Homo sapiens: one gene and its partner. The protein of the gene in region 1 purifies or fractionates together with the protein of each later gene. This does not show direct contact. Each region holds a gene or a part of one and is shown in the gene's direction. Other genes may lie near its edges.

What was found.
Region 2: the proteins of NUP35 (region 1) and ATP23 purify together in Homo sapiens (affinity purification with mass spectrometry; 3 studies listed by BioGRID and IntAct, with this or other methods). This does not show direct contact.

Annotation. Positions count from the first base shown.
Region 1 is NC_000002.12:183,116,507-183,127,442, forward strand, and holds the start of NUP35 (nucleoporin NUP35), read left to right. Parts: upstream 1-7,936; 5' UTR 7,937-7,951; coding exon 7,952-7,991; exon of another isoform or gene 7,992-8,201; intron 8,202-8,286; exon of another isoform or gene 8,287-8,451; intron 8,452-10,936. UniProt on the Homo sapiens protein: Functions as a component of the nuclear pore complex (NPC).
Region 2 is NC_000012.12:57,942,876-57,953,530, forward strand, and holds part of ATP23 (mitochondrial inner membrane protease ATP23 homolog), read left to right. Parts: intron 1-2,752; coding exon 2,753-2,798; intron 2,799-3,850; exon of another isoform or gene 3,851-3,885; coding exon of another isoform or gene 3,886-3,956; intron 3,957-4,119; coding exon 4,120-4,201; intron 4,202-7,838; exon of another isoform or gene 7,839-8,009; intron 8,010-8,882; coding exon 8,883-9,020; intron 9,021-10,655.

The DNA of each region.
Region 1 (10,936 bases):
AAATTATTTCAAGGCAAATCCTTGATATAGCTCTTCCTAAAATCCATAGCATTTTTTATTCAAAGTTGTCAATTTTGCCTGCTATGAACTTCCTCTTTTAAACATCTGATCAAACTACCTGATAGTTCAAATAGAAGAGCAGGAAATAAAATTACACCTGAAAGTTATGTAAGTTTTAAAGTTAGTTTTTTCACTTCCTGCAGGTGAAAGGAATCATTTAATTGATTTAACGACAACAGGTGAATGAAGTAAACTGATGTTTCTTTTGAAGTTTAGCTACTTCCTTTCTGCCAGTTGTTTACTATAGTAAAATGATCAGAAAAACTTCATGCATTTTCACATGTAATATTTTATTTTTAAATGTATAAAGACATGGCTTTGGTCATGATTGTTTATAGAGGTCAGATAATGCAAATAACAAGAGTAAATTTGTATTTTTTTTTTTTGAGACAGAGTTTCACTCCTGTTGCCCAGGCTGGAGTGCAATTGCATGATCTTGACTCACTGCAACCTCCACCTGCTGGGTTCAAGCGATTCTCTTGCCTCAGCCTCCCGAGTAGCTGGCATTACAGGTGCCTGCCACCACACCCAGCTAATTTTTGTACTTTTTTAGTAGAGACGGGGTTTCAACATGTTGGCCAGGCTGGTCTCGAACTCCTGACCTCCGGTGATCCACCCGCTTCGGCCTCCCAAATTTCTGGGATTACAGGCATGAGCCACTGTGCCCAGCCAAATTTGTATTTTTTTAAAGATGATGTCTGATTTTTTTAAAGACGAGGTCTCACTGTGTGGCCCAGGCTGATGTTAAACTCCTGAGCTCAAGCAATCCTCCTGCTTCAGCCTCCCAAAGTGCTGGGATCACAGGCGTGAGTCACCATGCCCAGCCAGATCTCTACATTGTAAACATCACAAAGGGTCTTTGGAGATCACTTGTCCTTGGTATCCAGGAAGTCATGGTTCCTCTGTGTGCTTTATGTGACATCATTAAGTGAGGGGTAGCCCATGCTACACCAGGTGCTGAAGGCTGAGACGGTGAGAGCATGAGTGATAAGATGCTCTCTCCCCTTGCTCTCTTTCTGAAGATGACAAACTCCATCTTTTTTCTAAAGTCTTACTAAAGGTGGAAATCTTTTTTCTTCACTTCAATTTTAAAAAATTATTTGTTTTTGTTTTATAGAATAGACTGAGAGTGGGCTTTTAAGAGTAACAAGTTGATTTTGTATTTATATACAAACACTGCATATTGTTGGACACTTATAAATAGGTTGATGAATATTCAGTATATATGATAGATATACAAGCAGTTTGGTGTGGATATATTAAACTTATTGAAAAATTTTTAAAATGTGAGATTTTACATATTTCTGACTTTTTCAAAATTTGAGTTTAGAAGAAAGTTGAAATATAGCTCAGAGCTAATTTTCAGGTTGAGCTCTCTGTAGCCCTAGGTACTCCAAACCAAGTATTTCAAGAGTCACCTGGAGTTGCGATACTTGGCAGTTTAGGGGGCAAGAACCCTTGTACTCTTTCTGTTCCTCCCCTCCCAACTGGGCAGTTGTATTTATTAAGCATCTGCACCATCCTTTGTTGAAGAAAGGGCTCCCCACCTAAGTTTGATAATCAATGGTCTACAAAAATAGCACTATGATGAAATCTGATGTCCTGGGAGGAAGGAATTCAGAACAGAAATAGGAAACAGGTTCCATTTGACAGTTTATTTAGTGCGTTCAGAATAGAAGGTAGAGAAAAAAGTATTGTAATCAAGATAATATTCATCTACAGAGGAATATAGTGAACATGCAGTATTTCTAAAATTGCAGTTTAACAAGAAATAAAAAAAGTACAAATGTTTCTCATTCAAGATAATCCACATTTTGAAGATCTCATTTTACACAAAAAAGGGTAATTAGAACTATAAACAGGTCTTCATTTTATAATAAGCACTTAATATAACTAATGTGCAGTTATGATTTTTAAAATTGGCAAACATGCAAAATTGCATTAAATAAGTTATGTCAGATAATTATCCTTTGTTTAATGTTTATTTACAGCTTGTAATTAATGTTTAATCATTTTGTTGTCAGTGGTGGGAATCCAAATTACACAGCACCAAAATATGTTGTCAGCGGCAAATCCATACGGGTCTGCAACAACAATTCTTGTGTCCTCAGGAGAGAATCTGACTAAGGGGCATAAGGCAGAAGAGACCAAGACAAGTTTTAGAGCAGGAGTGAAGGTTTGTTGAAAAACTTGAGAGGAGGAATGAAAAGAAAGTAAAGTACACTTGGAAGAGGGCCAAGCGGGCATCTTGGAGGACAAGTGCCCCATTTGACCTTGGACGTAGGGTTTTACATGTTGGCATACTTCTGGCATCTTGCATCCCTTTTCCCTTGATTCCTCCCTTGGAGTGAGAGGCCTGTTAGCACTTTGGAGGTAAGCATGCGCAATGTGTTTACTGGAGTTGTACGCATGCTCACTGGAAGTGTTCTTCCCTTACCAGCTGAATGTCCTTAGGAGGTCAGATACCAGTTAAACTCCTCCATTTTGCCTCTTAATATGCATGCTTGAGCCCACTTTCCCAACTCCTTGGATCTTATCGGGAAGCTGCCGATCACCAGTTTTAGGTGTTTCTATCTACTGGGAAACTGCCTTTTCCTGGCACTGGCTGCAATCAATTATTTTAGAGAGAGAGTTTAACAACCGCCTGACATTCCTGGTTGGGGTAGGGGGCACCTTCTCTTGCTCTGTTTATGCCTGAATAGCTACCTACTGTAACCATTTATTTTTCAACATACATTTAATTGAAAAATAATGGAAATACAAAATAGGAAAAGTTATGGTCCCTGGCCTCAAGAAAATCCATCTAGTGGGGCTGAAAAGAAAACTTACAAAACAAGTATCTTACAGCAAAGTGAGGTGAAGAGATAAGACGAATCAGAGTTGGCATGGCTGGGGCAGGTTTACATGACAGAAAGAGGCTTGAGCTGCTACTTGAAAGAAACACAAGACTTTGCAAATTGGGGTGGAAAGCTAAGGGATGCTAGGCAGAGGGTTGATGTGAGCAAGAAATACAATGTGAAGAGCTGTTCACAAGAGAATGAGGGTTTTCAACAGGGAATAATGAGAGAATTGATTGGAGCAAAAGGTTAGGATGAGGAGGTGAAGGAAATTTTTCTTTTTGGAGGGGGGTGGGCAGGGAACAGGGTCCAGCTCTGTGGCCTAGGCTGGAGTTCAGTAACAGGATCATGGCTCACTGCAGCATGGAACTCCTGGGGTCAAGTGATCCTCCCGCCTCAGCCTCCTGAGTAGCTGGGACTAAAAGGTACATGCCACCCCACCCTGGGATTTTATTTTTGAAGCCAAGGATCTCAGTTACCCCAGGGTGAAAGTAGGGTAACAATGTGTATTGCCTTTAGGGGTTCCTATGGAAGTCTCTTAAAGAGATGCTTCTACCCTCCCACCATGAGAGATTCTGATTTTTTCCTTCTTTGCTGTCCAGGTGACAATGTATATAGTATAATGAAGGATGTTACTAAATGACATGTGCTGCACACCTGAGTCTTGTGGAGGCTGAAGAAAAGGAGGCTTCTGTAGAAAATAGGAACTCAGTGAGTGTTTTCAGACAGCTGGGTAATGTGTATGAAGAAGAAAGCTTTGGGCCAGGCACGGTGGCTCATGCCTGTAATCCCAACACTTTGGGAGGCCAAATCTGACAGATCACTTGAGGTCAGGAGTTCGAGACCAGCCTGGCCAACATGGCAAAACCCTGTCTCTACTAAAAATACAAAAAGTAGCCGGGTGTGGCGGTGTACACCTGTAATCCCAGCTACTCGGGAGCCTGAGGCAGGAGAATTTCTTGAACACGGGAGGCAGATGTTGCAGTAACCTGAGATCGCTCCACTGTACTCCAGCCTGGATGACAGAGTGAGACTCCGTCTCAAAAAAAAAAAAAAAAAAGAAAGTTTTGGCTACTGGTGTGTTAGGCTTGGTGGGAGAAACTGAAGGCAGGGAGATGTAAGGAGTTGACTGCAATTGTATAGGAATTGAAGAGGCAGAAAGAATATCTCAATGTTTGATGGTAGAGAAGGTGAATGTCAGAAAAAACAAAGTGGAGCAGACACTGTACTAAGAATAACCATTTTTCAAAGTAGGTATTGTTTCTATTTTACAAACAATATAATCTAGAAATCAAATACAAATCCAAGTTATATAGGTTTTAGTGAGAGAGTTGGGCTCTGAATTGAGGTTCGTCTGACTCTAAATTCTGCTAATGCACTATGAATTCAATTTTGAGTTTCTAAGAGATGGAAAGAAAAAGACAAAAGATGAGCTTGCTTTTGAGGTTTGATGTACGGGTAGGTTGTGCAGCAAGCATCTGGAAAAGTGGCATTTGGCTTTAGAGATGTTGGGTATAGATTATTAAAAATTATTTGCACAGGGTGACAATGATAAGGATTCCAAGGGAGACCACTAAGAGTTGAAAAAGAAAGGAGAGAGCAAAGGCTTGAACATCAATAATATTCCCAGGTTAGAAAAAAAATGGGATCAATTATTGAAAAACCAGAAAAGGAGTAGGAAGTTATGAGAAATAGGAAGTGTAGCATCACCAAAAATAAAGAAAACACTTGTACTTAGGAAAAGATTGTCAAAGCTGTTGGATACTGCAGATGTCAAGGAGGCAGGTCTAATTTGGCAATTAGAAAAAAAAAATAGTTGGGGTCAGTAGTTTTATTTCGGAAGAGCATTACACAGGAGCCAATCTGCAATTAATTAAAAATCAAAATAGTAAAGATAGGGAAACAGATAATTTACTAAAATCTATAGACACTTCTTTTGAGATTTTGAAAAAATGAAATGAGAGAGAAATTAGCACATGGTAGGTAGGTGGAGGAGCAAGGCCTAGGGAGGGTTTCAATTCTGGGCTTCTTTATAGCTTGGTAAGGAAAGAGCCTGTTGAAAGGGTAAAAGATTGAAATGCAGGTAAAGAAAAGAAAATAAATGTCTTAATGGAAAAAAGTTTTTAATTTAAAAAGTAAAGAAAATAGGGCTGGGCGCGGTGGCTCACACCTGTAATCCCAGCTCTTTGGGAGGCTGAGGCAGGTGGATCATGAGGTCAGGAGATCGAGACCATCCTGGCCAACATGGTAAAACCCTGTCTGTACTAAAATTCAAAAAAAAAAATGAGTTGGGTGTGGTGGCATGCGCCTGTACTCCCAGCTACTCGGGAGACTGAGGCAGGGGAATCAGTGGAGGTTGCAGTGGAGTGCCAGAGCTGAGATCGTGTCACTGCACTCCAGCCTGGTGACAGAGCGAGACTACATCTCAAAATAAATAAATAAATAAATAAAATAGCAATAACACCTGTCATCAACCACAAAATTGTATAAAATAAGTTAAAGGCCATTCTTTTTATTATTATTATTATTATACTTTAAGTTCTAGGGTACATGTGCACAACGTGCAGGTTTGTTACATATGTATACATGTGTAAAGGCCATTCTTAAATCCTCCAATTTACAAACCCTTTTCTACTTTACTGTTAATAGTTTGGTGCAAATCTTTTTCTTTTTCTTTTCTTTTTTTTTTTTGGACACAGAGTCTCGCTCTGTCGCCAGGCTGGAGTGCAGTGGCATGGTCTTGGCTCACTGCAACCTCCACCTCCTGGGTTCAAGCGATTCTCCTGCCTCAGCCTCCCAAGTAGCTGGGATTACAGGCATGTGCCACCATGCCCGGATAATTTTTGTATTTTTTAGTAGAGATGGGGTTTCACCATGTTGGCCAGGCTGGTCTGGAACTCCTGACCTCGTGATCCGCCCGCCTTGGCCTCCCAAAGTGCTGGGATTACAGGCATGAGCCACCATGCCCGGCTGGTGCAAATCTTTTTCAACATCTTCTTTTATTTAAAGAAGTATCACTCTTTTCTCTTTCTCTGCATCTGTTCCTAAATAAACCCGTTATTAAATAAAAATGGTGCCGTATATGCATGCATGTTTTCAAATTACTTTTTTTCATTATATCTATCACAGAGGTCTTTCTAGGTTAATATTTACACTCATATCAAATCCATCTAATTCATTTTAGTTGTTGTATAGTGTTCTTTTGTTTGGCTAGATCATAATTTGTATAGAAATTTCTTTTTTATTTTGTAGAGAAGTGGGGTCTCACTATCTCAAACTCCTGGACTCAAGTGATCAACCCCTCAGCCTCCCAAGGTGCTGGGATTGCAGGTGTGAGCCACCACATCTAGCCTCAATGTGTGTAGAAATTTATACATTGATATACCTTTCTTGGTAGCTTAATTCTAAAAAGTGGATTGCCCTGTGTTGTGGGCTGACTACTCCCCAAAGATATCCATACACTAAGCTTTAGAATCTGTGAATGTTACCTTATATGGCAAAAGGTATTTTGAAGATGTGATTATTAACTTAATCACCTCTACTGAATATTGAAATAGTAAGATTATCCTGGATTACCTGGGTGGGTCCTAAATGTCATCACAAGGCTATGTGATGGCAGAAGCTGAACAAAGCAGTGTCAGACAGACCAAAGATGCTACATCGTTGGCTTTGAAAAAGCAGGAAGGTGGCACAAGCTAAGAAATATAAGTGGCTTCTAGAAGCTTGAAAAAGCAAGGTAATAGATTCTCCCCTGGAGCCTCCAGAAGAAAATAGTCCTTCTGGTACTTTGATTTTAGCCCTACAATACTCATTTTGGATTTTTGGCCTCCAGAACTGTAAGAGATACATTTGTGCTGGTTTAGTTAACCGAGCTTGTGGTACTCCAATGTGACTTTATCTGAACTTTATTACATCTGCAAAGACCCGATTTCCAAATAAGGTCATATTCATAAGTATGAGGGTTAGGACTTGAACATAAATTTTTGAGGGACACAATTCAATTCACACACCCATTTTCAAAAAGTCAATTCGATCTGTGAGTGGTTTTAAAATTTGATTTCTGTGAACCTACCATTTAATTCTGGAATTGTTACTGCCTCATTCCAAAGACAAAATTCTTCCTCCATTTGAGATTTTAGGAAGTCCTAGAAGAAATAGCTGAGCATGGGTGGATATTTTGGAAATAATCCTCATGGTATGGAGCAGAGAACGTCCCCAGTTATACATATGTAGCACATTATTTTATAAAGTTAGTATTTGAGCAAAACTAAACAATATATTTTTACACACACATATGCAGAATATGTGTATGTGATTTACGTATGACTATGCCCTAAAGAAAAGCAGCAAAGTGAGGGGACGTGGACGGCAGGGATGGCACATGCAGAAGCACGCAAGATTCCGCGGTGTGGAGGGTTCGTGGGTGCGTATAATTATCTTCCATTATTTACATGTGTACTTTATGCGTTCGTTAGCTATATTTTTGTATGTTTTAATATGCAACAAAACGGCGTATGAGTTACGCTTTAATGTAAAATTGTCTACATAACACAAAATTTAAAAGAAATGGCATACGGATAGTAGAAAACATGCTTTGAGGAAAAAGCGTCATGTACTAAGTCCAGAAATCGACATTGCAAAGAGGCACCAACTGTTTTCATCAAGCTGACTTTTCCAGGTGCTACTCAGAAAAGCTGACCGATGATAGAGCACTGGGTCAACTCACGCTAATTATGAAACCGTGAGTAAAATAATCTGTGCTTCTATGTAACTTAAGTACCCACAAATCAGGAAGCATTCCCGGATGAAAAGCATTCACAGAACCATACGCTGGTTCGCCACCTTCCCGGTGCAAAAACCCTTTCCTCGGAAATTCTCAGCGCAAAGACTTTGCCCTATTCCAAAATGGCTCCGGCGCCTACAACTTAAGCATAGCGCAGGTCCGGAAGTTACGCAACCCCATAAGGTAGCACGCCGTTACCCGTGGGGAGCGTTTCCGCCATTTTTGAAAATTAATTGGGAAGGTACTGGTTTTAAGTGTAGTTGCCGACGCAATGGCAGCCTTTGCAGTGGAACCTCAGGGGCCCGCGTTAGGTGAGTGAAATATTGCTTTTCCTTGCTGGCACTGCCATCCATGCTCTGGGCCTGGAGGCGGGCAAGACTGAAAGGCAGTCGTCAGGCTCTCGTCTGCTGGTTTCAGTCGCGGAGAGGGAATCCTTGGGTGCCCCCAAGTTCATAGTCGGTCCCCTACTCGACGCGTCGCCTCCATACTGCTACAAAGGTGGCGCCGGGAAGCTGAGGGCCCTGGGAGGGTGAAGAAAAGGCCGTCTGGCGGTGACTGAGCTGTGTTTGTGCCCCCACACGCCAGCCACGTTAGACTGGCCCATACCTTAACCTCCTTCTGATACCCGAGACGCGATGCTGGTTGCTGGATTCCCAGCTGGTTGCTGGTCCCCAGAAGCATCCCTGGGAGGAACTGACCGCGGTACACGTGGGTGGGCGGTGCCCTGAAGTGTGTGGGTGCAGTCCACTGCTTCTTGATCACCGGTGCTTCCAGTTCCTGTTTTGACTCCTCTCTCCCGGGCTTTGCCAAAGGAATCTTGTTATTAATGGAAGCTTGAATCGTGCAACATTTAATCAACCGTGTGGTTGGTAATCATTGAGATATTGACCTTAACAGCAAGCTAGGAGTTCGCACGATATTTCCCGCCTTTATTTGGGGAAAGTGACTCTTAAGTATTGTAGGAGGTATTTTTCTCTAGTAAGTCACGATCTGAATTTTTTTAAAGATTCATTCCCATTATTCATTGCGGAGCCTCGTTGAAATATGTCGTCTTTGAAAAAAATCTACCACTTTAACAGCACGCGGATTTCTTTTTTTCCTGCTGAGTTTTGCGACTTGTGAGAATCGTCGAAAATTTTAGAACGGAAAATAAACCGTCTTACTGTCATAGAGACTTACCTGAAAAGTTAGGTTATAACTTTCTGAGCTTGGAAAAGAGAGCAAATGTAATATATATGGTGTGGAAAGAGTCTTTAGATTTGAAGGGTATGTAATGCTTGCCATGTTTGGTGTAAAATAAGTTCTTTTTGAGAATAGAGTAACTTGAACTACTTTAGTCTGTCATAAAAAAACTAAATGCATAATGTCAATAATGCAGATACTCTGCATTAAAATTTATATATAGATGTCGTCTTGGTATTTATTTTTAATGTATTTTAGAGATCAAAAACTCTTCATTTCCAGTTCCAAATTTTTCTATTCAACAAAAACATTTTGGAGTGCATATTTATTGGGGTTACAAATGTGAGTAAACCAATCCCTGTATATTGCCTTGCCAGAAATCTGACATTAGCCAGTATTAATGTTTAAGTCCACATTTTGCAGATATTCCAGGTGCCCACTGGTGTAGTAAAACTAAGGGTTGACTTCAACAAACTGCTAGCTGAGTACGTATCTTTTGGGAGCACAGAATATGAAATGGAATTGAGGACATGCAGCATCTTTTCCTTAAGTTTGCTTTAAGTGAAATTTAGCCTGAGGGGTGGTTGGTGACAGTCCTGATTAAGAGCCCATTGTGCCCTCCTTCCTGTCTGGTGCTTTCTTTTTTCTTTTCCTTCCTTCTTCCCTCTCTCCCTCCCTCCCTTCCTCTTTTTTGACACAGCCGTGTCACCTGGGCTGGAGTGCAGTCGTGCAGTCTCAGCTCACTGCAACCTCCCCCTCCGGGCTCAAGCAATCCTCCCACCTCAGCCTCCCAGGGGCTGGGACCACAGTGTGCCGCCACTCCCAGCTACTTATTGTATTTTTGGTAGAGACAAGGTTTCGCCATTTTGTCCAGACTGGTCTCGAACTGAGCTCGAGCGATCCACCTGCCTCGGCCTCCCAAAATCCTGGGATTAGAGGCTTGCGCCTTCTACTGTGTCTGTATGTATCCAGATACATCAGAACTTTTCTTAAGCCAATTCTTACTTTATTTTGCTATAATTTTTTTTTCTTTTAGGGAGGGGGAGTGAATGTAGTGAATGTTACCAAAAACTTTGCGTTTAATATGGTATTCTGAATATCTGTTAAGAATATGCTTTTGTTTAGACTTTTGGTTTGATTTTAGTGGATCTTCTTACGAAATATTTCTACAGTGCCATGTAACATAGTAACTAGCACTTTATAAAATAATTACAATGTAATTAGAGTTTTTCACACCTTGTTTTAGCATTTGCTTTATCCATTTATTGAATTTGTTTTTTTTTTTGTCTTTTATACACTTGTATTGTTAATATCTAGGCCTAATATAATGGGAAATAAGAGGAAGACTAAATAGTTGGCAGCTTTCGGATATTAAGAAACAGATTGTTAAGGCCATCTAGAAGTTAAGTAATAGTTAATAAAAAACCATACAAATAACATAGCAAACATTTGACCCTTCTGAGTGCAATGAGTCACACTCAGGCTTGTCACCTAGTTGAAAATTATTTTCATAAGCAGAGATTGCAAATTCTACATTTATACTTTACTCAGTTTTTGCTATTATAAAATATTTGTAGAAAATAATAATTCGTATTTATTGAGCACCTGTGTATCAGGTACCAGGTCAAGCTATACTTGCTATAATTCTAACAAAAGCTCTGTTAGTGGATGCTAGCTATGCTTATTCCCTTTTACTGAGAGAACTTGAACCCACATCTTTGACTCCATAGCCCATTGTTTTCCTTATTCTGCTATTTTGCTCTGAAATTAGAATTATATAGCTCACTCATCTTCATAAGGGAAATAATATCTACTCTATAGATTGTGAGGATTTATTTTGTATCAATTGTGAGGTTTCAGTTCTCTAAGTTGGCTTTATATTAGGGGGATATTTAATGATGATTCTTTAATTTTTTTTTTTTTTTAAATAAAAAAGATGAGATCTCAGTGTGTTGCCCAGGCTGGTCTTGAACTCCTGAGCTCAAGTGATCCTCCTGCCTTGGCCTCCCAAAGTGCTAGGATTGCAGGCGTGAGTCACCATGCCCAGCTGTGATTATTCTTGACTTAAACTAAT
Region 2 (10,655 bases), on another chromosome or scaffold:
CACTAGAGAAGATTTCTTAATTCCTTTACATTGACATAGACTTCTTAAGTTTACTTTCAGATACATTCAGAAAATTAGTCTTAAACATACTTGTCCCAAAGCAAGGTTACTATTTCATAGCTAGTCAGTCACAGTTCAAAAGTCAACCACCGAAAGATTTTCCAACCTTCTTGGGATTACCTGCTTGTAGAGACTCAGGGAGGTAGGAGGAGGAAGGGGAGTTGAGGGTAAAAGGGGAGAGAATGATGATATTGTATTTACTGTACAAATATGTATTGAGTGCCTCCCAGGTTCTGGTGGGGGAAGTAGAAAGATGAGTTAGCACCCTGCCTTGAAGGTGCTTCAAAGTGGAATAGAGTGGAAAGAGTATGGGTTGCAGAGTTAGATGTGGGTTCAAATGCGGATCCCTTTCCTCAGGTGTGGAAGGTGACTTAACTTCTCTGATCCTCACTATCCTTATTGTAAAAAAAGAGAAGGGGAAAATACCTTTTTTAGGGTTGTTGTGAAGAATAGATTTTATGGGGCTGGGTACGGTGGCTCATGCCTGTAATCTCAGCACTTTGGGGAGCCAAGGCAGGGGGATTGCTTGAGCTCAGATGTTTAAGACCAGCCTGGGTAATATAGGGAGACCCTGTCTCTACAAAAAATAAAAAAAATTAGCTGGATGTGGTGGCTCATGCCTGCAGTCCCAACTATTTAGGAGGCTGAGGCAGGAGATTTGCTTGAACCCAGGAGGCTGAGGCTGCAGTGAGCTGTTATTGCATCACTGCACTCCAGCCTGGGCAACAGAGCGAGACCCTGTCTAAAAAAAAAAAAAGTACTGATTTTATGAATGTAAAGTACCAGCATATCAGGAGCTGAGCTGAATAAATGGTAGCTGTTTTTACAGTGGAAGGGCCACACAGTGGAGGAAGAGTGGAAATAGATAGGATGTGAGGAAGGTGGGGTGCTGAACATGAGCCCCAGTAGGAATCAATGGACCTTGATCTTCCAAGGGCAGGGTGGCTGGGAGGGTCTTTTGGTGGTATTAAAGTGTCAACCTGCAGCTTTAAAATGCTATCCCTGGGTGGGGCGTGGTGGTGGAAACCAGACCTCATGGGAGTCTCTTTTTTTTTTTTTTTTTTCACCAAAGCAATTTTATTCTAAATATTGCTGCAGGTCCTTTTTGAAGTACTAAACCATGGTTTTTTTTTTTTTTAAGTACAAGGACTACAGACTTTTGAAACTGTTTTAATTTTGTAAAATTCTCCTAGTTGCATGAATAATAATGTGCTTAATATGGTGCCTGCTACCTGGTATTCACTCAATAATACGTATTGTTAACAATAATTATTCTACTGTGAACACTCTTGCAAGGGGCAGGTTGGTAAAGCAGTAACCTATACCTGACTTTCTCATCTCACATTTCTTTTTCTCACCTATTTTTGCCTTCAACATTTTTTTTAAACCTTAGTTTCTTTTTCACTTTTTTTGGGTTACATCATATAATTGGCTGTGCATTTATATTCTCAGACAAGATGCCTATGTGAAAAGTTAATATCAGAGGCATTTGGGCTCCTTGTACTTTCCTGTAGTAGTCACGGGCCCATAGAGTCTTAGATGTGGAAGGGCCCTCAGGAATCGTCTAGGCCTCCCCGTCCCCTTACAGGGAAACCTCTGTGCTATTGCTGGCCAGATACTCTACAGACCTCTCCTGGAATACAGTTACCTGTTCCTTGAGGCTCTTTCAATCTACTGTCTATTGTTTCACCAGCTTTAATTGTTGGAGAAAAATCCTTTCTCATACTGAGCTGAAATCTGCCACATGTAACTTCCATACTTTGGTCCTTGTTCTGCCCTTTGAAGAAATATTAACTGAATCTAGTCCCACATGGCACCCCTTCAATACTTGAAAGTAGTGTGGTCCTAGTTAAGTCTTCTGTCTCCTTTCCAACCCCCCAAATCCTTTCTTGCTTCTTACTGGAAATAGTCTGTAGTACCCTAGTCACCATCCCCTGTGGAAGAGCTTCAGTGGCAGGTCCAATTTAGAAGGTGGTAGTACTCAGCATGGGACATGGTATTGCCGGTATGATCTGATCAGGACAGAACAGTGTGGCTACTGGCTTCCTCAAATCTAGGTACTGTGCTGTTGTTCACTTCTAAGAATGTGGCCCTAGATTCCCTCAGTCTTTTGGTATATACCGTAATACAACGTGTTTGATCATTTAACTAAAAATGAACTTTAAAAGCATAGTTGATATTGTCTAAGATGCTTAGTAGTACCATCTTGGTATTTGTATTAGTGTTTTATTTCAGTACAAACTTGCTTTGATGTTGATTTAAGCTTGGCCTCTCATGTCAATTTTTACCAATTTTAAGATAACATTACTTTTTTTTTGAGACAGAGTCACTCTATCGTCCAGGCTGGAGTGCAGTGGTGTGATCTCAGCTCACTGTAATGTCTGTCTCCTGGGTTCAAGTGATTCTCATGCCTCAGCTTCCCAAGTAGCTGGGACTACAGGCGTGTGCCACCATGCCCAGCTAATTTTTGTATTTTTAGTAGAGACGGGGTTTGCCATGTTGGTCAGGCTGGGCTTGAACTCCTGGCCTCAAATGATCCACCCGCCTCAACCTCCTAAAGTGCTGGGATTACAGGCATGAGCCACTGCATCTGGCCTGTGAGTTACTTTTTGATAATATCTTACACTGCTATTTGGGTAGTTTAATTGGTGCTACTTTTCCAATTACTTAATTAAATCAATATCTTTTTTAGATCCATATGTCAAACTTCTGCTTGATGCTATGAAACACTCAGGTTGGTAAGTAACTCTTTTTGAAGTGCTGCTCTGAGGTCTGGCTGCTGAAAACAAAAACCAAGTTCTCTTCTTAAGAGAACTGCTTAAGATTTCTCTGAGGTCACAAAGTCTTTTCCATAGGGTAAATAGAGGTAATTGGCTGCATTGTCTCCGGGCTGGCCTTGTTCTCTTTGGACATTTTCTGCCCTAACTCATGTTTTTTTTTTTTTTTGGGGATAGAGTCTCGCTCTTGTTGTCCAGGTGGGAGTGCGTTGGTGCTGTCTCGGCTCAGTGCAACCTCCGTCTCCCAGGTTCAAGCAATTCTTCTCCCTCAGTCTCCCAAGTAGCTGGGTTTACAGGCGCACGCCACCATGCCCGGCTAATTTTTGTATTTTTAGTAGAAATGGGGTCTTAGCATGTTGACCAGACTGGTCTCGAACTCCTGTCCTCAAGTGATCCACCCACCTCGGCCTCCCAAAGTGCTGGGATTACAGGTGTGAGCCACTGCGCCAGCCCAGCTCATTTTCTAGTTCTTACCATTCACCTTGGGTGATTAATAAAGACAGTACTCAAAATTTTCTTGTAAGTAATTACCAAGCCTGGCCTTTCTGCTACACCAGCCTGAGCACTGTTTTTAATGGAAAAGAAATCTCAGCTTGTTATGTAGGAACCTTGCAGATGTTGTATAACTTTGAGGGGTTTAAAGGAAGTGACTTCTGACATCCACTTCTTAACATTCTGGCCCAAGGGCAGGAACTCCAGCATACTTGCAATATGGCCATAATCAGTTGAACAAATTTTTTTTTTTTTTTTTTTTTTTTGAGACGTAGTTTTGCTCTTTTTTTTTGCCCAGGCTGGAATGCAGTGGCACGATCTCGGCTCACCGCAACCTCCGCCTCCCGGGTTCAAGAGATTCTCCTGCCTCAGCCTCCTGAGTAGCTGGGATTATAGGCGCCCACCACCACCCGGCTAATTTTGTATTTTTAGTAGAGATGGGGGGTTCTCCATGTTGGTCAGGCTGGTCTTGAACTCCCGACCTCAGGTGATCCACCTGCCTCGGCCTCCCAAAGTGCTGGGATTACAGGCGTGAGCCACCGCGCCTGGGGGACAAATGTTTTATGGAATCATATCTATAGAATTTGAACTAGAATGGATTTTGTGTACAACCTCCTTATTTTACAGGTGAGATAACAGTCCTGAAGATGTTGTTTCTTTCCCAAGATTTCCTATGTGTTAGTAGTAGAGGGGATTTACTATATGGTGGAGGGTCTCCTGAGCCCTGGCCCAGGGCTGTTTGCCACATACACACTGTTTCTGGACATTGTCTCCTTTTCTTGCCTTTTAGTGCTGTTAACAAAGATAGACACTTTTCTTGCGAAGACTGTAATGGAAATGTCAGTGGAGGTTTTGATGCTTCAACATCTCAGGTAGGCATTATTGCCAAATTGTTTCCTTCCCTTTAATCCTCTCTCTTTATATTTTTTGAGCATCTTCCACATGCTCGGCATTCTGTTTGGTAGACTTTATGTAGGACTAAAAAAGTGAATTAGTTATCCTTACTCTAAGGAGTTTACTCTTAAAATCTCTTAAGGAGTTTACAGCCTTACAGGAAAGATAAGACATGAACACAGATAATTATAAAATGAGGCAAGCTAAACCATTTTAGGTGGGCTTGGTTACCACAATGGAACAGTGATGTGATCGATTGAAAGATGCCAACAGATTCGACTAGAGGATATAAAGCCTCCTTAGGGGCAGAGCAGGGACAGAGCAGGGGCAGCATGAGCAAAAGTGCATGCTACGAAACTGCATGGCATGTGTAGGGAATGGCATATTGTCTAGTTTATCTGGAGGGCAGGAACATGTGGGGAATGAGGGAAAATAGGATTGGAAGGAAATGTAAGCCCTATGGTGGGAGGTTTTGAATGCTAAATTAAAGGGTTTTTACCTTTACGTGGTGAGAATTGATACTGCCTGTGAAAATTTTTTATTAGGGGAGTTTTCTAATCTGTACAATTTGGGCAACGATTGTATCTATTTTATGGAATGATTATGAGAATTAAATGAGATATCTCTTATAGAGTTGCTTATCTTAGTGCCTGGCCCATAGTAAGCATTCAATAAATTTTATTATTAGTTTTAAGTCATCAGAGAGTTTCGACAGAGTCTTGGAGGTGGTAGATAATGTCATGTGATCAGGGTAAATGATGGTGTTATAAGTAACTGTTTCCCACTTGAATGTATAATTCATACTTAACTACACTTAACTGTTTCCTGCTGGATAATTTTGTATGTATTTAGGTTATTTATAGCATTTTTACAGTAATCATGTGAAGTGGCAATATAGAACAAGGATGAGAAGTCTAGATTTTGGAGTCAGACTTGAGTTCAAATCCTAGTTTCCTTGCTTATTATCTGTGGGGCTTGGGCAAGTTATTTTTCTTCTTCTCAGTTTCCTCATTTGTAAACTGGTAATCACAATACCTATAGCTCTCAAAATGGCTCTGGATAAGTTCACTCCCTTCTCGGTCCCCCCAGGGTTAAACAGAGTGCACATCTTGAACTTTCATCCTAATTCTCAGCAGTGTTGAACACAGTTGGGCACCCTCTCCTTTTATTTTATTATTATTTTTTAAATTATTATTATTTTTGAGACAGAGTCTTACTCTGTCACCCAGGCTGGAATGCAGTGGTGCAATATGGGCTCACTGCAACCTCTGCCTCCTGGGTTCAAGTGATTCTCCTGCCTCAGCCTCCTGAGTAGCTGGGATTGCAGGCATGTGCCACCATGCCCAGCTAATTTTTGTATTTTTAGTAGAGTCAGGGTTTCACCATATTGGCCAGGCTGGTCTTGAACCCCTGACCTCAGGTGATCCACCCATCTTGGCCTCCCAAACTGCTAGGATTACAGGCGTGAGCCACTGTGCCTGGCCTATTTTTTTAAATGAAAATTTTTATTATGAAGTATCTCATTCATACAGAAGAGTAAAACATCTATATGTACACTTTCAGTAATAATAAAGTGCACACCTATGTAACCACCACCCAGACTAGAGAAAAAGAACATTACTAGGACTTCAGAAGCCTTCGTGGTCCTCTTGAATCAGGTCCTTTTCCCTTCCTTATCCTGACTTTTGTGGTAACCATTCCCTGCTTTTCTGAATGGCTTTACCATCTACATATACAATCCAACAGTGTGTTATTTAGTTGCCTGCTTTTGAGCTTTATACATGTTATACTTTGAATTTTATGTAGCATTTTGTAGTATTATGAAATTGTACAGTATATAGTCTCCAATTACTTTCCACCTTCAGCATTTGTGAGATTCTTTCTTGTTGTTGTGTGTACCTCTCTGGTTTATTTCGTTTCCCTGTTATATGGTATTTATTCCGTTGTGTGTTTATACTATAGTTTACTCTAATATTGATTGTTTCCAACTTTGTTATTATGAACAATGCTGCTATGAATATTTTTGACCTTCGCTACTGGTGCACATGTGCAAGAGTTTCTCTAAGGTATATGCTCAAGAGCAGAATTACTGGGTCATATAGTTTGTATACACTTGACTTCAGCTGTTAATGCCAAACACTTTCTTTGGTTTCTAGTATACAGCACTCTTCTGGTTGCTCCTTTGCTAGCTTACCTTCCTCTACTAGCATTTAAATGTCAAAGTCCCTCAATCCTTGGTCATAGAGCCCCTTCTTTTCTTACTCTGCCAAGGAGGTCTCATCAATTTTCTGGGGTCAAAGCTCACTTTTAAGAACTCCACATTCCATATATCCAAGTGCCCATTTAACACCTCTACTTGAGCATCTTTTTATTTATTTATTTATTTTTATTTTTAAGGAAAAAAAGTTTTTTTGGGACAGGGTCTTGCTCTGTCGCCTAGGCTGGAGTGCAGTGGCGCAATCATGGCTCACTACAGCCTTGAACTCCTGGGCTCAAGCAATCCTCCCATCTCAGCCTCCTGAGTAGTTGGGACTACAGGAGTGCATCACTGGACCCAGCTAACTTTTAAAATTTTTTGTAGAGATGAGGTCTCACTATGTTGCCCAGGCTGGTCTTAAACTCCTGGCCTCAAATGATCCTTCCATTTCAGCCTCCCAAAGTGCTGGGATTACAAGTGAGAGCCACTGCTCCCCACCTACTTAAGGGTCTTAAGGACACTTCAGACTTGAAATGTGTAAGTCCAAATTCATGATTTTTACCATCCCCCATCTCCCCACTCAACCCAGTCTTTTAGTTTTGCATATCTCAGTGGATGGTGCTACCATCGACCCTATTAGCCAAGCCAGAAATTTATGGATCATCTTTGATACCCCTGATTCCTTCCCCGTATTCTATCAACATATTTTGTCTAATTTACCTCCTAAATAACTCTTTTGGCTTCCACCACCATTCTAGCTGAAGTGCTGTTCTCTCTTGCCTAGAATATTAGCCTTCAGCTAATTTCTCTGCATCCAGTTTTGGCCATCTCCTGCCTATTCTTCCAACTATAGTTAAAAGGATAAAAGCAAAATAAAACAAAAGCAGTCTTCTGTTTCAACATTCCCTTTATCCTGAGAGCTTCCCATTGCTCTTAGGGTAAAGACAAGGTCTTCAGGGATTTGGCCCCCCGACCTCACCAGCCGTATCTGTTGCCTACCACCCCCACCGCTGTGCTTCAACTCTAGGGCTCTCCTTTTAGCTTCTCAAGCATTTTCTTCCGTCAACCCTCCCTCTACGCTTTGCATAGGTTTTTCTCTCTGCCTAGAATACTCCCTTCCCCTCCACACCTCAAATTTCACTTCTATTCCTCCATTAGATACCAGTTTAACCATTCCTTCCACAGAGAAACCTTCCCCCACCTCCAGAGTAGGTCAGGCATTCTTTCTTTTTCTTTTTTTTTTTTTTGACACAGGGTCTCCCTTTCTTGCCCAGGCTGGAGTTCAGTGGCGTGTTCCTGGCTCACTGCAGCACCAACCTCCTGGGCTCAAGTGATCCTCCTACCTCAGCCTTCCAAGTAGCTGGGACTATAGGCATGTGCCACCATGCCTGGCTAATTTTTATTTTATTTTTTTATAGAGATGGGGTTTTGCTCTGTTGCCCAGGCTGGTCCCGAACTCCTGGGCTCAAGGAATCTGCCTGCCTCAGCCTCTCAAAGTACTGGGATTATAGGCATGAGCCACTGCACCCAACCTCATTGTATATGCTCATGACAACCTGGGTTTTTCTTCATGACAACTGTCATTGCATGTATGTAAACATTTTGGTAAATATTTGGTTAGTTTCTATCTCCATCAGTAGATTATAATCTATTATTAGGTCTCAATAAGTATTAGTTGAATCAATGGATGTTGAATGAATGTATATAAATATCTGGCACATATCCCAGTGTCTGGCAGTAGTACACAATCAATGGCAGCTATTACTATTAGGATCCCTTGTGTCTTTCTTATTCTTATAGGGTCCTGCTCAGTGTGCTGTTGTGTTTTGCACTTCTTTCTGAAGGTCTTTCTGATGAGTTTTCCCTGGCATTTGCCCTCATTCTAGTAAAATGAGGACAGTGGTGGTCATTCCTTTTTCATTCAATGCTCATTCAGAAACTTGATAAGAAGTATTTTACATATATTCTCATTTAATTCTCACAGTTCTATGAGGTAGCTACCCTAATTATCTCCTTTTTATAGTTGAGGAAATTGAGGTACAGAGAGATTAAGAAACTTGCCTAAGGTCACTGAGTTAGTAAGGGGTGGAGCTGGAATTTGAATCTGTGTGCTTCATTCCAAAGCCCACTCTCTTAACCATAATGCTGTGGAGTCCGAGACAGACTAGTACGATCAGCCCAGTAAGGATGGTGTGTGAATACGTGTCCTTAATCTAAGTACTGCTGTAGTCCAGAGAGAGGAGAAGGGAGAAGTTAGTCACTGGGCGAGGCAATTGGAGCATGTACACTTAGGACTAGGACTTGTCCCATGGGTAGATGTGTGGCCAATGAAGAAGAGTGGGTAGAGATATTCCAGGCAGGTGAGCTTGTGGGGGAGAGGTGAGGTCATGTGGGAGAGAAGATCGAGTCTATGGAAGGAGATTTTAGAATCACTGAACTTCTTTTATTTTGGTGTCTCCTAGATAGTTTTGTGCCAGAATAATATCCATAATCAGGCCCATATGAACAGAGTGGTCACACACGAGCTTATTCATGCATTTGATCATTGTCGTGCCCATGTCGACTGGTTCACCAACATCAGACATTTGGCGTGCTCAGAGGTGAGTTTTATTGTATTTTTCTCCAGAATACTCTATGCTTGAATATTTTATTCAAGTGTAATTTATTTAAATGTATTCCTTTTCTTACTGTCATAGTTCTACCTTAGTCTTGAATTTCGGTTTATAACTAACATTGAATACCATTTTTGATATACAGTTAGAGAAATTTAAAGTGTATTTTTAGAATTCTCTTAACTATATCCTGTAAGTCCTAGTAATAGTGATGACTGACTTTAATAAGCTATTAATTTTTTCCTATGGAATATATTTTATAATGTATTCCATAGGAGACATTAATAATAAAAATAAAAATAAAAAAATAATTAAAATTTACTGAGGGCTGTGTTCCAAACACTGTTCTGTTTGCACAGATTCTTATTTAATCTTCACAATAACCTACTGAGATAGATATTATACTATTATTGTCCCTGTTTTACATATGTGGAAAGTGAGACAGTTGTTTAGATTCCAAAGTTAGTAAGTGGTAGAGGCAGGATTACAACTAGTGTTTTTAACTAGCTTGCCCAGCTGCCTTCCATAGAGCTCCTTGCTTGCCCTAGAGTAAAACATGCTCTTTTCAAAAATACAACATAAAAAGATATTTATTACTAAGCACGTTGGATTGCTCTTGGAATATGCTCCTAGAGAGAGCGTATTCTGCATATGCATATACTTGGATGTCATTAATTGAAGAGTTAATTAAAATAATCTAAATCTCAAGCCTATACTATATAACTTCGATTATTTCCCTTTCTCTTGAAATTAATATGTAGCCCCCTGCATCTAATTATAATTCCAATTATTTGGAGAATAGACTGAAACCTGAATTTTTAAATAGGTCTCTTTCTTGGGTACTGTGAGAATTAATGCCTTTTAGCTAGTTAAAGTGTGTTAAGTACTTTGAGCTCCTCAGAGGAATGAGGCCATAATATTGAAGAAGGAACAAGAAGTGGGCCATTCTGTTAGCAATGAATTAGCAAAAATGTGGTCAAGCTGCCTGTAGAATCTATGTGGGTAGTTCTAAGACTTTTTCATTCATTGAAGTATAGTAAATCTGAAAATATGTCCTAATTTCAGGCTGTCATGCTCATAGCGTGACCAGTTTGGAATGTTCTTGATTCTTTGTGTTTTGTATTGCTTCATTTTTCATAGGACAATCAAGTCCCTAGAGGAAGGTCATGAACTTATATAGGTTTGAGGGAAGCTCCAAGGGAGATTCGGGCAAGGGTTGGGAGGGGCATATTCTCAAAGTGTCTCAGATATTAATGCATTCAGTTTTAAGGTCACATTGAAACTCAGTTTATTTCAAGAATGCTTTCTTGAAGTACTTTTGGCAATTTCTACAAGTATTTGTATCTTGTAGAGTGTGTAGTTTAACTCTGAGGTCTAGCTCTCTGACTTTTGGTTCCAAAAGAAATTAGTTCTGTCAGTAAAGCTACGCATAAAGTTTAGAAAATTTCCTTTGGTAGGCGATTGAACTTTTCCCCATCTCTCCAGTGTATTTGGCATTGTCTAGCATAGCTCATAGATATTTGCTCTCGTTGTCAATAGAGTTTAAAAAGTCCTTTAAGAAGAAGTGTCACAAATACTCTTTTCTCAGACAAAGATGCTAATTTTATATTCTTTTCTAATTTT